Linked DNA regions of Homo sapiens: region 2 is linked to region 1. A link means that fine-mapping ties the variant in region 1 to the expression of a gene that starts in the linked region. Tissue or cell type: whole blood. Region 1 holds a variant in brackets; the other region holds the start of a gene. All regions are shown on one strand. Distances are from middle to middle.

Evidence for each region. PIP is the estimated chance that this variant, and not a neighbour inherited with it, causes the effect.
Region 2: it holds the start of ERAP1, and the variant in region 1 is fine-mapped to the expression of ERAP1 in whole blood (GTEx, PIP 0.96).

The regions. Positions count from the first base shown.
Region 1 is chr5:96,642,684-96,645,440 of GRCh38, reverse strand. It overlaps a transcript of CAST not described here. Among named protein-coding and RNA genes, the nearest start is that of CAST, 18 kb to the left of the region's middle. The variant T/A (reference allele first, on the strand shown) is at 1,564.
Region 2 is chr5:96,806,497-96,809,124 of GRCh38, reverse strand. It overlaps ERAP1 (endoplasmic reticulum aminopeptidase 1), which reads left to right and starts at 1,180. Exons shown (of 19, transcript NM_001040458.3): 1 at 1,180-1,265. It overlaps LOC124901033 (a long non-coding RNA gene), which reads right to left and starts at 1,667. Exons shown (of 3, transcript XR_007058879.1): 1 at 548-1,667. RefSeq lists enhancers at 500-569, 726-1,225, 1,226-1,727 and a silencer at 1,300-1,759.

The DNA of each region.
Region 1 (2,757 bases):
TGCACTGGACTTAGTGACTTGCTTCCAAATAATATAGAAAGGGCGAAATAATAACATTGAAGTGGAAAAACCTGAAAGACACCACCTTAACCGCGTGATGAATGTTGACAGCACCAGTGGTAAGTCATGTGGATCTCATGTGGAATGTGACAAGAAGGCCGCTTTAGCACTGTGATAATCTTCCCCAGACTCATAACTCCAGCCTACTCATGAGAAAAACATCAGATAAGCTCATATCGAGAGATATTTTACAAAATACTAGATGTACTCCAACTGTCAAGGGCATGAAAAACAAGGAAAGTCTTAAAAACTGTCACAGGCCCCAGAGGAGTCGAAGGGGACATGATGACTAAATATAGTGAGTATGTAGTATTGGATTGGGACCTCCAACAAAAAAAGGGAATTAGTGGAATAATAAATCCAAATGAAGTCTGGAGTTTTGGGTTTTATTTGTTTGTTTGTTTTTTGAGACACTCTCACTCTGTCACCCAGGCTGGAGTGCAGTGGCCCGATCTTGGCTCACCGCAACCTCTGCCTCCCAGGCTCAAGCGATTCTCCTGCCTCAGCCTCCTGAGTAGCTGGAATTACAGGCACGTGCCACTACTGCTAGGCTAATTTTTGTATTTTTAGTAGACACGGGGTTTCACCATGTTGGCCAGGCTGGTCTCAAACTCCTGACCTCAAATGGTCCACTCGCCTCACCCTCCCAAAGTGCTGAGATTACAGGCGTGAGCCACGGCGCCTGGCTTGGAGTTTCATTAATAGTAATATCCTGATGTTGGTTTCCTAATTTTGACAGATGTATCACCATAATGTAAGATGATAACATCAGGGGAAATTGAAACTGAGTGAGGATTATAGGTGGATTCTCCATACCACCTGCACAACTTTTATGTCAGTCTAAAATTACTCCAAAATAAACTGTTATAAGAAAAACAATTTTATGTTTAACAAGACTTTTCTGGGAATGGACACCGCCAAAATATTTGTAGTAAATTTTTATTTGTAATAATAATTTTTAAAGGTTAAAGATAATTTTCTAGCAGTTGCTGGCTGTAGCTGACCAACATGCCATTTGAATCCACCAAGTACCAAAACTACTTCTGCTGTGAATGCCTTATTCTTGGAGAAGCAGTAAATATAAAATGGGTAAAGAGAAATTTAAATGACAGACTTTCACTGTACAAGAAACTTAATTAAAGACAAATTTGTTGTGAAGTATTTTTTTAAATAATGGTTTTATTCAAATATAATCCCCATACCATACAATTCACCCATATGAAGTATACAATTCCATGGTTTTTAGTATATTCACAGAGATGTGAATGATCAGTCAATTTTAGAACCTTTTCATCACCTCAAAAAGAAACCCTCAATTTTTTTTTTTTTGTTTTTGAGACGGAACCTCGTTCTGTCCCCCAGGCTGGAGTGCAGTGGCATGATCTTGGCTCACTGCAACCTCTGCGGCCTGGGTTCAAGCAATTCTGCCTCAGTCTCCTGAGTAGATGGGATTACAGGTGCACACCAACATGCCCAGCTAATTTTTTGTGTTATTATTATTAT[T/A]TTTTTGAGATGAAGTCTCGCTCAGTTGCCAGGCTGGAGTACAGTGTCATGATCTGGGCTCACTGCAATCTCGGCCTCCAAGGTTCAAGCGATTCTCCTGCTTCAGCCTCCCAAGTAGCTGGGATTACAGGTGCGCGCCACCACACCCAGCTAATTTTTATATTTTTAGTAGAGACAAGGTTTCACCATGTTGGCCAGGTTGGTCTCCATCTCCTGACCTCGTGATCCACCCACCTCGGCCTCCCAAAGTGCTGGGATTACAGGGGTGAGCCATTGCGCCTGGCCCATTTTTTTGTATTTTTAATGGAGTTGGGGTTTTACCATGTTGGTCAGACTGGTCTCGAACTCCTGACCTCAGATGTTCCACCTGTCATGGCCTCCTAAAGTGCTGGGATTACAGGCGTGAGCCACAGCACCTGGTAAGAAACTCCAAACTCTTTAGCTATCACCTTCCTATCCTCACATCTGTCCCCTCACCAGCCATAAACAACTACTAACTTTTCTGCCTCTATAGATTTAACTATTCTGAATATTTCATATAAATGGAATTATATAATAAGTGATCTTTTGTGACTGGCTTGAAGGATTATTTTGTATTCTCCAGATAGACTTTGAAGAACAGATAGCAAAAGTAACTTAGAAAAATGCACTTTTAGGGATGCAGATATTATATCATTTTGAAATATAATCTCAGTGCCCTACTCTCAAGGTGTCTTGCATCCCAGCTGCGTGCAAACATGCCACTCCACATTCCATTGTGAACGTTGTTTTGTATGTAGCAAAATAATAAATATAGAGTAGTGGTTAAGAGCACAGCCCAGAGAGGCAGACTGCTTGATTTAAATGCTAATGCTGTCCCTTAGCAGCAAATTACTCAACCTCTCTGGTCTCTGGTCCTTAATTTCCTCACCTGTAACATTGGGAAAATAATGGTTCCTACCTCATAAGGGTGTTAGAAGGATAAAATGAGCAAATAGATGCAAGGCCTTTGAAACAGTCTGTAGTACATATTAAGAACTATATGTATTTGGATGGGCGTGGTGGCTCACACCTGTAATCCCAGCACTTTGGAAGGCCTAGGTGGGCGGATCACTTGAGGTTAGGAGTTTGAGACCAGCCTGGCCAACATGGTGCAACCCTGTCTCTTGTCTATATTAAAAATACAAAAATTAGCTGGGCGTGGTGCCGGGTGCC
Region 2 (2,628 bases), 160 kb before region 1:
GGTCTCACCAGCTCCATGACAGTTTACAAATGCCACTGCAACGTCGGGAAGCTACCCTATATGGTCTAAAAAGGGGAGGCATGAATAATTTCCCCCGCTTAGCATATAATCAAGAAATAACCCTAAAAATGGACAACCAACAGCCCTTGGGGGTGCTCTGCCTATGAGTAGCCATTCTTTTATTCCTTTAGTTTCTTAATTACTTGCTTTCACTTTACTCCATGGACTCCCCTCAAATTCTTTCTTGCGCAAAATCCAAGAACCCTCTCTTGGGGTCTGGATCGGGACCCATTTTCGGTAATAAACTTGTAGCATTTGGTGTTTTAATGTTTGTGTTTTCTTGACTTGTTACCTCATTTAGCCTCAACTGTTTAAAGATGGTCTTTTTGGCCATTTTATTCAGCTTTAATTGTTCTAAGGGGAGTGAAGAAATGGTCATTTACTTTGAAAAATCAGAGGGAACGTGTTGATGCGGGAAGCAGCTAATCCTTGGGGTACAGTGGCCCTTGGTAGTGCAGGAAAGTCCTGGGGGCCACCTCTAACCCACCTTCCTCCTCTACAGCATCTCCCACTGTAGTCATTCTCTACCGAAGCCCCAGAAGGTGCGGCACTTTGCCACGACAGAGTACTGGGTTCATGTTTCTTTCCGAGGCGGGCCAAGAGCTCTCAGCCCACTGGCAGTGGCGAGATGACGGACACCCAGCGAGTCCAATGGGCGTCGAACGCGTCTAGGCTTGGTGGACTTGTCAGCGCCTGCCTGGCTTCGGTCCCCAACTTGAGCACCGGCCCTTTCCTGCATGCCCCTAACCCTCGCAACGCTAAACAGTGAAAAAAAAAAAAAGACAAAAACAAAAAGCATCTCAACACACACACACACACACACACACACACACACACACACACACACACACACACACACACACACACACACACACACGGATCCGCGTTCAGAAAGGCGTGCACTTCCTACGCCTGATCCCCCGCATCGCAACCTCGCAGCTTCCCCGGCGTGCAGCGCTCATTTACCAATTCCCTTCCTGGGAGTTGCGGCTTCCCTCGCTCGGCCCCACTCCCGTTTACCCTTTCCCCAGCTCCCGCCTTAGCCAGGGGCTTCCCCGCCTGCCGCTAGGGCTCGGGCCGAAGCGCCGCTCAGCGCCAGCCTGCCGCTCCCCGGGCTCCACTTTCACTTTCGGTCCTGGGGGAGCTAGGCCGGCGGCAGTGGTGGTGGCGGCGGCGCAAGGGTGAGGGCGGCCCCAGAACCCCAGGTACAGCGCGCTCGAGCCGCGGGTAGGGGACTGCGGGCCGGGAGGAGAGCGCGGCACCCGCCCCTTCCCTGCGCCCGTCAAGTGGGGGGCTGAGGGCCTGGGGCACGGGAGGAGGGAGACGGGGCACGGGAGGAGGGAGACGGGGCGCGGGAGGAAGGCGACGGGGCGCGGGAGGAAGGCGACGGGGCGCGAGACAGGGCGCGGGAAGGGCGGGGGGAGTCGCTGGCTAGGCCCGAGTCCGCGGGGTGCCCGGCGGGTTGGCGGCGGGCCCACCCCTGCCGGTCCCTGTCCCTGTCCCTCCGGGCGCGTGGCCGGTGCGCCTGCTTCACGGGTCTCCCCGCTGTTCGGCCGGCGGGAGCCTCCCTCAGCGCTCCGCCTGGCGCCTGGATGCCTGCCAGTCCTGCAGGCCACCGACGCCCGCGCGAGGCCAAAAGGCGGGGTGGGGCGGGCAGCTGGCTCGGGCTGAGGAGGGCACCTGCCCATAGCTGCTAGAGAAACCCAGAGGCTTTGGGTTAAAGACTCTGGTGGGGTGGGATGCGCGGGCCGTGTGTGTTCTTAAGGTCACTTCCCTCCCTGCTTCTCCTGTTCTTCTGGTCAGCAATTCTCTCTCTCCCCTTCGCTCTGGCTCTGGCTGGGTTTTATTCAGATAAAGCACCTCTGTTGACGCAAATTAAAAGTTTCCTATCTGGGTGCCTCACTGGCCAGGTGGTCCTACAAAGTTAATTCCATGAGGGGAAGGGGGAGAGCACACACTTCCTCACGCTTTTGGATTTCTTTGTGTAGGCTAGGTTCAGAAAGAAATTATCTGTTTCCTATTAAACACCCAGAGGATTCGCTCTGAACTCAGGACGTGGTCAACAATTAACAAAACAACAAAACAAAACAAAACAAAACAAAAAACTTGAAAATTGGGCACAGTTGTCTCTTGCCTGAGGATTTTTAATTAGTATAAGTAGCACATTTTCAGGTGCGGCCTGAATAGAAACATTCTAGTACTTTTTTTTTTTTCAAATTAATCCAGCATTTTTATTATTTACCAACAGTGCTTGTTAATTTCATTGTTCAGGAAATTCTGGAAGAACCTCAATTACTTCTTGATGATCTATTTCATATACTATAGTGCCCCAATAAAAGGAAGGGAGGCAGAGGTTGCAGTGAGCCAAGATCGCACCACTGCACTCCAGCCTGGGAGACAGAGCGAGACTCCGTCTCAAAAAAAAAAAAAAAAAAAAAAAAGAGGGATCTTGGTGAAGCTGAAAAAGCAGGGAGTTTATACTCACACAGATGTGGATTGCATTCCAACAAGTTGTGTGAACTTAGCAAAGTTACATGAATGGTTCTTTGCTTCAGTTACCCCACCTTG